Regions from separate parts of the Homo sapiens genome. Here region 2 is linked to region 1. The links come from fine-mapping of genetic effects on gene expression. A gene starts in region 1. The other region holds a variant in brackets. All regions are shown on one strand. Distances are between the middles of the regions.

Region 1 (5,000 bases):
GTGAAGGAGACGGAGAAACCTGAACACTATATGCCAACATTTGGGCTAGCTGCTTTTACACATTTCCTCTCATCTTCCCAAGAAACCAATGAAGTAGGGATTACCTCCTTTCACAGTTTGGAGATTAAATGACTAAGCCAGAGTCACAGCTGGTAAGTGGCATCTGGCATTCCCCAATAGAGGAGTGTCACACAGTAAAAGGTATAGCGACAATCATGACAGAGTAGGCATGGAGTATTACTCACATCTGTGTGCTTGGTCATAGGGTTCAACTTCAGAAAGAGGGGGCTCTCGATGATCTCACACACCTGGAAGAGAGGGACAATGCACAGGAAGTCAGTGCCCCCTACCTTTCTCCTTCCCCTCATTCTCCATTCTCTGCCCCAGCATGCACAGGTGTGAGCATGCATACCTGCTTATGGACGTGGATGTCCGAGGGGTCAGGTGGCCCCCCTGTGGTATACCAACCCAGAAACTCCAGCTCCTTGAACACCTGTTTAACTAGAGGGGAAGGGGCCAGAACATATAGTAATTCTTTTTTTTTTTTTTTCTGAGACGGAATCTCGCTCTGTTGCCCAGGCTGGAGTGCAGTGGCATGATCTCAGCTCACCACAACCTCCGCCTCCCAGGTTCAAGCAATTCTCCTGCCTCAGCATCCCGCGTAGCTGGGACTACAGGCACGCACCACCATGCCAGACTAATTTTTGTATTTTTAGTAGAGGTGGGGTTTCACTATGTTTGCCAGGCTGGTCTTGAACTCCTGACCTCATGATCCACCCACCTCGGCCTCCCAAAGTGCTGGGATTAGAGGCATGAGTCACTGAGCCCGGCCTGACATAGTAATTCTTTAAACCATCCTTCCTCAATGTGAAGCTCCTGGTGTATTTTCACCAGCTTCTCTCCTCCCTCCTCAAATCCTGGCTCAGTTTAGAATAACTACTCCCTTCTATCCTGTCTCCTCTCATCCTTTGCTTTCTTTTGAGAAAGAACTCTGAACGTTTTCTTTTTCTGAGATCTCTCCAGCTACTCTTCACTTTTTCTCCCCTGTTCTTGGTCTCCTCTCCTGTTTCTTTCCAACCCTCTCCATCTTCCCCACCCTGTACATTTTTTTTTTAACTCCCACTCCTCTTCCCCACATCTATTCCACTCTCACACTGCTCCTCCTTGGTGTAATAATATTCCTTGTCAATGATAATCTTCTCTTCCACGGTGTGGGACAGCAGCTCAAAGGAGTTCATCACCTCGATATTTCGGCCCTCCTGCTTGCCAATCAGAGCCCCAATCACTGGGAAAGAGAATGACATGGAAAAGGTGAGGGTAAAGAAACTTCTATGACCTGAGGGTCTGAGATCAGTGGGAACCATGTATTGGGGAAACGATGATTTGGGGGAGGGGGAATTGGCTCCAGTAGAGGAAGGGGAAAAGACCACTGCCTGGGGGAGGTGAGCAAGGAGAAGAGACTGGAGTCTATGCCCAACACTCACCCTGCACAGGCCGCCCCTCCTGGGAGCGCATGCGGATCCAGTGGTCTGAGATGTTGAGAATGACAAGGGGATGGAGAGCGACGGAAACACTCCCAGTCACTCCGCAGGCCATCACGCTGGGGACTACTAAGGGTGGAGGGAAAGGAGAGAGGGTGAGAGTCCGGGCCCCACGTTCTTCCCTGGAGATGGCAGTGGGGGACGGCGGAGCCCGGGCCACACTTTCCTCCCGTAACTTATCCCAGGGAAAGATGTTGCTGCTCCGCCCTCCTCCCTTCTCCCGGGAGCACAGGGAGGCCTCAACGAACCCCTGAAGGAGGTCTCCGGAAGCCACCCCCGCACGGCCCGTTACCTGCTGCATCCACCTCCATCCCGCTGCTTCCTCCGGTCCCGTTCGTAGCTGCAGCCGCCGCCGCCGCCGCCGCCATTTTCCCCGCGCCCGCCAGCCTCGGCCCCGCCCCCTTCCTTCCCGGCTTCCGTAAGGCGAGCGGCGCATGTTCGGTGTCCCCGCGGCGTGCGGCGGGCCTGGCGTCCGGGGAGCAGGCAGTTCCCGGGTCGCGGCGGGCGGCACTCGGTGCGGGGACGCCCGACGCCCTCTGGGCCTCGGTGCCTAGCGGGTTTTCCCAGACCCTGTCCCCGCCTGTCGCCTGCGGGTGACCTTTGACAAATTAACGACTTGATCGTCCTCGTCTGTGAAATTGGGATAAGAACGCCTAGTTCTTAAGGCTGTTGCAGAAGGAATGACATGTCGTGTTATTTCCCTCACAATAAAATCCAAACAACTAACCACAACCTGCAAGGCCCTGCCTGATCTGGCCCCGGCCTGGCCTCTTCTAGCCCTTGATCTTCAGGCTTCAGCTGCACTGGCCCTCATGTCTGGTGGTGGTGGTGGTTTGTTTTGTTTTGTTTGAGACAGGGTCTCGCTCTGTCGCCCAGGCTGGAGTGCAGTGGCCTGATGTCAGCTCACTGCACCCTCAAACTCCTGGGCTCAAGTGATCCTCCCAGTTCAGCCTCCCGAGTAGCTGGGACTACAGGCGCACCCCACCGCACCCAGCTAATTTTATTATTTGTTTTTATTTTGATAGAGACGGGGGTCTCACTAGGTTGTCCAGGCTGGTCTCCAACTCCCGGGCAGAAGAGATCCTCCATCCTCAGCCTCCCAAAGCACTGGGATTACAGGCATGAGCCACCGCACCCAGCTCTCCGTGTGTTTTTCACATGCTTTAGTTTCCCATTCAAAAGCCTGTGGTTCCTTCTCTTGTTCATCATGGTATCCCCTGTGACCAACACGGTGCCTGACACATTGGAGCCTAGATACTTTTTGAGTGAATGAAGGAATAATTAGGGGTGGAATCTGGTGTTGAGTTAGTTGCTCCATCTTGTGAAAGTTGCAGATACCAGGACAAAATCACATTGTCAGGTCCAAACAAATTGGAGCCATGAGAACACCAAGGAGAAGGTCTCATGCTTGCATGTCTGAGATAGGAATTATCTCAAGGACTTTCGAAAATAACCCCACAAGGCCAGGCATGGTGGCTCACACCTGTAATACCAGCATTTTGGGAGACCGAGGCCAGACAATCACTTGAGGTCAGCAGTTTGAGACGAGCCTAGCCAACATGGTGAAACCCCATCTCTACTAAAAATACAAAAATTAGCCAGGCGTGGTGGCAGGCGCCTGTAATCCCAGCTACTCAGGAGCCTGAGGCAGGAGAATTGCTTGAACCCGGGAGGTGGAAGCTGCAGTGAGCTGCGATCGCGCCACTGCACTCCAGCCCGGGCAAGACAAAGTGAGACTCCATCTCAAAAAAAAAAAAAAAAGAAAGAAAGAAAGAAAGAAAGAAGATAACTCCACAAGGCCAGGCATGGTGACTCACGCCTGTAATCCTAGCACTTTGGGAGGCCAAGGTTGGAGGATCACTTGAACCCAGGAGTTTGAGACCAGCCTTGGCAACATGGTGACACCTTGTTTCAACAAAACATGGAAACAAAATTCGCTGGGTATGGTAGAGGCATGCCGAGGAAATTTATGCTTGGGAAGTGAGTCAAAACTCCCTTCCTTTTTGTTCCCAGATAGCTGTAATTCCACAACCCTGTGTCATAGCCTCATACATAAGCCAGGCTCCTACAATGGCAAAAGGCATATACCTCCCCAGATGGTCTTCCTCACAAATTGCTTGCCAGGAAATTCCTCATTAGCCTCTGAATCTTTCAGCATAAACATTCCCCCTATAAACCAGCCCTAATCCGAGTTCTGTGAAATCTCATACTGACAATGTTGATTACAAGCTTATCTTCCCAATTATAGAACAAGGAAGAGACCAGGAATCATCCCTCCACCTATCCTGAGACAGATGCATAACTGACTTTTTCCTCCACTCCCTCTTTTCAAATGTTTATTGTATCTTACATAAAATGTAGATTTACTGAACACTAATGAGAAACTCACAAAAAAGTAACAATGTGCAGCAGGGTGTGCAGTGGCTCATGCCTGTAATCGCAGCACTTTGGGAAGCGAGTGGATCACTTGAGGCCAGGAGTTCAAGACCAGCCTGGCCAACATGGCAAAACCCCATCTTTACTAAAAATACAAAAATTAGCTGGGTGTGGTGGTGCCCACCTGTAATCTCAGCTACTTGGGAGGCTGAGGCAGGAGAATCACTTGAGCCTAGGAGGTGGAGATTGCAGTGAGCCGAGATGGACCCACTGGACTCCAGCCTGGGCAACAGATTGAGACTCTATTTCAAAAAATAAAATAAAATAACCATTTGCTGGACTGGGTGCAGTGGCTCACGCCTGTAATCCCAGCACTTTGGGAGGCCGAGGCAGGCAGATCACAAGGTCAAGAGATTGAGACTATCCTGGCTAACACTGTGAAACCCCGTCTCTACTAAAAATACAAAATATTAGCTGGGCATGGTGACACGCACCTGTAGTACCAGCTACTTGGGAGGCTGAGGCACAAGAATCGCTTGAACCTGGGAGGCAGCGGTTGCAGTGAGCCGAGATTGCGCCACTGCACTCCAGCCTGCTGACAGAGCGAGACACTGTCTTAAGAAAAACAAAACAAAACAAAACAAAAAACATTTGCCTCACTGCCTCTCCTTCTTCCTTATTTTCCTCTTGCATGCTTTCTTCCCTTAAATACTGAGTTCCTGGCCAGGCACAGTGGCTTATGCTTGTAATCTCAGCACTTTGGGAGGCCGAGGTGGGTGAATCACCTGAAGTCAGGAGTTCAAGACCAGCCTGGTCTCGACCAGTAGAGATGGTGAAACCCCATCTCTACTAAAAATACAAAAATTAGCCAGGCGTGGTGGTGCATGCCTGTAATCCCAGCTACTCGAGAGGCTGAGGGAGGAGAATCACTTGAACCCGGGAGGCGGAGGTTGCAGCGAGCCGAGATCACACCACCACACTCCAGCCTGGTTGACAAAGCAAGACTCTGTCTCATAAAAAAACCCAAAATTCACATCTGGCTAGCCTAGGCTGCTCCACCCCCTCCTTACCCCTAAACCTAAG
Region 2 (5,522 bases), 52 kb after region 1:
CTTTTTTTGAGACAGAGTCTCTGTTACCCAGGCTGGAGTGCAGTGGTGCAATCTCGGCTCACTGCAACCTCTGCCTCCCAGATTTAGGTGATTCTCCTGCCTCAGCCTCCTGAGTAGCTGGGACTACAGGCGCCCACCACCACGCCCGGCTAATTTTTGTATTTTTAGTAGAGACAGGCTTTCACCACGTTGGCCAGGCTGGTCTCAAACTCCTGACCTCAAGTGATCCGCCCACCTCTGCCTCCCAAAGTGCTGAGATTACAGGAGTGAGCCACCGTGCCTGGCCAGTCCTATCCTCCCCCCAACCTTTTTTTTTTTTTTGACATGGAGTCTCACGCCATCACCCAGGCTGGAGTGCAGTGGCGCCATCTTGGCTCACTGCAACCTCCGCCTCCCATGTTCAAGTGATCCTCCTGCCTCAGCCTCCTGAGTAGCTGGGACTACAGGCGCCCGCCACCACGCCCAGCTATTTTTTTGTATTTTTAGTAGAGACGGGGTTTCGCCATGTTAGCCAGGATGGTCTCGATCTCCTGACCTTGTGATCCACCCGCCTTGGTCTCCCAAAGTGCTGGGATTACAGGCCTGAGCCACTGTGCCCAGCCTTATCCTCAATTTTCTAAGCATAAGGATTTAAGAGTTAGTGGGAAAGCATGACTACGGTTTAAAAGAACCTGGTCAGCTGAAGCAGTCCCACTTGGCCATTCCAGTACACTTCCTACTCTCGCTTCATGGAGAAGACCGTCTACTGACAAGAGAATCCATCCCCTTTGCACACAGTGGTCACCTGACAGCTCAGAGGTCAACTTCTTGGTTTTGAGGAAAAATTCAAAAGGCTGCACGTTTAAAGGAGTTGTTCCATTTCAGTGCCCCATTAGCCTGTCTTTCCTCAGAAATTTACCAATCTCTTGATGTGATAAGCACCAAACTATGAAGCTTTTCCCTTCCTCTCCCCGCTGCTCCGTTCTGTGAACCGACTTTTTGTCTACAATCACACTGATTTCTTCACTGTTTGCTCTGAAACTTCACTTTTTCTGAGTGATGTGTTCTGTCAAATAGGCTAAAATAAAATACAGTATCTGCTTACAGGTAATATACGGAACAATAACAAGGGACTGAAGGTACAAAACACACACGGACATTATGGTCATATAAAATATATAGAAGTACCTAACGTTAACAATTTTTGTAAGAAGTTGCACATTTTGCTATTTTTTTAAAGCATTTCCCCACATTTTTTTTCATCTGTAGATCCTCTGCAGTTAAGATTGAGCACCCCCCCGCAACTTTTTTTTTTGATACAGAGCCTCGCTCTGTCACTCAAGGCTGGAGTGCCAGTGGCATGATCTTAGCTCACTGCAACCTCCGCCTCGCAGGTTCAAGCCATTCTCCTGCCTCAGCCTCCCGAGTAGCTGGGACTACAGGCGTGCGCCACTGTGCCCAGCTAATTTTTTTTTGTATTTTTAGTAGAGACAAGGTTTCACCATGTTGGCCAGGCTGGTCTCGAACTACTGACCTCGTGATCCGCCTGCCTCGGCCTCCCAAAGTGCTGCGATTACAGGCGTGAGCCACGGCGCCCGGCCAAGATTGAGCTCCCTCTTGCAATGTTTCTCAAATTCATCACGATTGGAACATACCGACGGAATTCATTTTCTGTCTGAAGCAATGAGTGCTATACATGAAAGTTTTCCTCACATATAATATTCATCAAGTTTATTTACAGTATAAGCTTTCCGATGCTAAGGGCTGAGATGTGATTAAAGGCTTTGCCGTATTCATCACATTCAGGAGGCTCCTTTCTGGAATAAATTCTCTGATGTCTATGTGAACTGTCCCACGTATCACACGTCAACCTCTCTATACATATTTAGCAGTTTCACTTTTATGCCTTTAATATTAAGTGCTTTACATATCAAGATGTCTCATAGATCGATAATCTCAGGTTTTAGCCTTGCCTGCCAGGCTGGAGTAGAAACAAATACCCCACAACCTGAGGATTTTACTTCTCTTCCTGGCAAGGGTAGGGTATATATTGAAAAACTCTTCAAAAATTTCCATTAGGACAACTAGCATGCTAATGGTTAACTGTAGAATGTTTCAACTGTTAACAGACTTCAGCGGGCCAAGAACTTTTGAATGACTATCTTGAACGCCAATTAGATGTTGCAAGCGTTTTTGACCATGACCCAATTACACTTTGCACTGAGCATCTGATAAACGAATGCACTGCAAGTGGTTTTAATAAACAGTTGTAGCCTGTTTTCCTCAGAAAACACATCTTCAAATAGCTGCTTCAAGGACAGCATGTGGCTGAAGATCGAAGCAACCCTAGTGGCAGCTATCCAACAAAGTCAGGAAGATGTCTCCATGAAACGGAATTAAATGTGAGGGCACAGGTCACATTTAACCTTCATTTAAAAACAAAACTCAAAAGTGATGGCTGAGTTATATCAGCATATAGTTGTGGCTGAAAGAAAAAAAAAAACCAAAGGCCAATGTAAACATGACCAAAGTCCTTTCCCTCTTAAAAAATAAGTGCTTGGGTCGTTGCCTGGAGTTCCACACCTCACTTTTCAGTTTCTTTCTTTCTTTTTTTTTTTTTTGAGATGGAGTTTTGCTAGTCACCCAGGCTGGAGTGCAGTGTGCAATCTTGGCTCACTGCAACCTCTGCCTCCTGGGTTCAAGTGATTCTCCTGCCTCAGCCTCCCAAGTAGCTGGGATTACAGGTGCCCACCATCATGCCCGGCTAATTTTTATAATTTTAGTAGAGACGGGATTTTACCATGTTGGCCAGGCTGGTCTCAAAACTCCTGACCTCAGGTGATCCGCTCACCTCGGCCTCCCAAAGTGCTGGGATTACAGGCGTGAGCCACCGCACCTGGCCTCAGTTGCTTTCTAGAGGGCAAAAGTCCTTGCTCAAAAGCACAGGAGTTTTCTACAAAACCATTGCTGTGGCTTATTCTTTGAAGAAAATCCTTAAAACATTTTCTGCCTCCATTTTAGTTACTTAGATATACTCTTCTGGAGTAATGGGTTTTTCTTCCGTTGCATGGGTAGAAATATCCTAGTGACTGGTTGACTTGCAACACGTTTTCCCAAGTAATGCTGATGAAACTGCTTAGAAGCTATAGGGAAGTTGTAGTTGGTTTAAGTCATAAAGCCAAGGAGAGGCCAAAGAATGACCACTGTGCAGTTTTAGCTC[C/G]CACTTCGTTGGTTCCATATAAAACCATTTGGTCTCATGGACTTTAGCTGCTGATCAGTGAATGACTGATGAGTAATAGTTTTAGTATAAGTTTCTCAAGGGAAAGTCTCAAACTATATATGGGGTTCTCTTGTTATGGGGAGGTCACACTGATAGTCTTGAGGTTTGTTCTCAGTCTATGTTTCTGTTTCCGCAGGGCGGTCCTAGCCTTGGGTAGGACCCTTGTCCTACTTGAGTGGCGATGACTACTTACACAGCTCACAATCTCCTGTGTGTGAAACAGTCTCCTGCCATCAGCTTCTAGGTAGCCAGTTGCACCCTGCGCACAACGATGGGACCAATGAAAGTTTCATAACCTCACCTCAGTCTTTAGTGATAAGAAACAGAAAAGTCACTGTGCACTATGACGATGGCACAGCCAGCCACATCTCAGTACACTGCTGAGTTTCTCAGAGCAACAAAATACATTTAGTAATTGCCAGTGAACAATTAATGCTTTTGCAAAGTTACTGGAAAAGCGTGGGAAAAAACACTCCCTACCACGTTCCTTTTTCTGAAAAGCAACAAAAATCACATCTTCTGAACTCCAGTATCTAAGTACAAATGATTCAGAAAATCCCCAAATCATCATACTGTTCAGCAGCTAACTGCAAAGAATTCTAAGAGCTTTGCCACAGAAAGATGTCAAAAAAAAAAAATGACCTTCATCAGTGTTCATATTTTTCTTCAAGATGACGATGATAAAGTCATTTCTGACATTCCATGGTATTTACTCACTGTTTAGAAAGTCTATGCAGGCGGCTGACTAGTGCCTTTCGTTTATATTTGGAACAAAAACAGCATCAGACCCTAGAGGTTTAGCATGCCTTGTGGCTACGAAGGTCCTCTTTAGAAGCTGGGCCAGGCTACCATATTTCAGGGACTCACGATTCACAGGCTTTTATCACACACGTAGAAGTCCTGTAGAAGTCAGTCTGAATGAGTGCCTCTTAGGTGTTCAGTACTCACTATGTCCAGCACTGTGCTGGCAGGGATAGAAATATATCCCTTGACAACCGAATCTTTTTTGGGGGTTAGGGGGTGATTAAAAACTTCATACATGAAACAATGAAGGATTAAAAGACAGTATACAATCAAGTGCTAACTTGTGGAGAAATGCATTTAGGAGTGCGATAGTGCTTTAGGGATTTCAAGAAGGGAGAGATGTATTTGGAGTTGTTGTTGCCATTTCAGTAGAACTGATCTCAGGGATGAGGACAGAACCATCTACATTTGTTGCAGTCCTTTGGAACTGTAGACTGGTGCACATACCCTCTCTTTCGGGAAGAGATAGAAATCTTTGGTTTGATACTGATTAGCACAGTCCTAGATTTCTACAGCTTTGGTAGGCTACCAGTGATCATATATACAACTTATCGTATATATAACTACCTTGAGCAGCATGTCCCAATGTCGTTTTTGTTTTCACTGTCCCTCTTTTTTGAGAAATAAGCAGGATGTTGGCCAAAGTAGGGCTTGTTTGCAGCAAGTAGCATCCTAACCTCCGTATCACTTTCGTGGAGCCAATCTTGATCTTTCAACTATTATGTTGTGGTTGCCGAGAGTCCAAGAGTGCCTTAAAGGTATCCTCATTACTGAAAAGACTGACATTTCACTATGCGTGTGCTTTTCTCTTGTGTGGAAATCTCACGTGGATTATCCGTAAGATTAGCCTTTCCCTGCAGGGGCTGTGTGGAAGGATTATATGCCCAACTACTACATAAAGGCAGAACACTGCTGATGTGACTAGAAGGATCCTTAAGTGTGACTTTTGTTTTTTAATCTGTTGAGGCTGTATTTCTTTTTCCCTCCAGGAGCACACATCTCTGAAATAATTTTAGAAACAAAAGGGGGAAATGGCTTGATGGCAAATTCTTCCTTTACACACAACTTTTCAGGAACGCGCCAAATGCATCAAGGGAGGCTGGGCTGTACTCAGAGGCTCTCTCTCTGGCATGGATTCTGTGATGCAGAGTGAGGGTGGAGCTGCGGGTGAAGGCCTTGCCACACTTAGTGCACTTGTAGGGCTTTTCTCGAGTGTGAATTCTCCGATGCAAAATCAGGTATGAGTTTCGGTTGAAAGCTTTTCCACATTCACTACATTCATAGGGTTTCTCCCCCGTGTGAATTCTCTGATGCTTGGTGAGGTCCGAGCTCTGGCTGAAGGCCTTCCCGCACTCATTACATTCATAAGGTTTCTCTCCAGAGTGGATGCGCTGATGGAGGATGAGATTGGAACTGTGGCTGAAGGCCTTGCCACACTCGTTACATTCATGAGGTTTCT

The links. PIP is the estimated chance that this variant, and not a neighbour inherited with it, causes the effect. A credible set is the group of variants that fine-mapping cannot tell apart.
Region 2: its variant is the best candidate, but not a certain one, in a credible set for the expression of COPS6 in whole blood (INTERVAL, PIP 0.60).

Annotation. Positions count from the first base shown.
Region 1 is chr7:100,085,900-100,090,899 of GRCh38, reverse strand. It overlaps COPS6 (COP9 signalosome subunit 6), which reads right to left and starts at 1,931. Exons shown (of 10, transcript NM_006833.5): 1 at 1,834-1,931; 2 at 1,485-1,610; 3 at 1,154-1,285; 4 at 413-501; 5 at 246-308. The coding sequence starts at 1,909. RefSeq lists enhancers at 334-1,533, 1,040-1,731, 3,118-3,811 and a silencer at 1,882-2,071.
Region 2 is chr7:100,033,794-100,039,315 of GRCh38, reverse strand. ZKSCAN1 (zinc finger with KRAB and SCAN domains 1) reads right to left here. Exons shown (of 6, transcript NM_003439.4): 6 at 1-5,522. The coding sequence ends at 5,119. Among named protein-coding and RNA genes, the nearest start is that of ZSCAN21, 13 kb to the left of the region's middle. RefSeq lists enhancers at 985-1,484, 1,485-1,986. The variant C/G (reference allele first, on the strand shown) is at 3,200.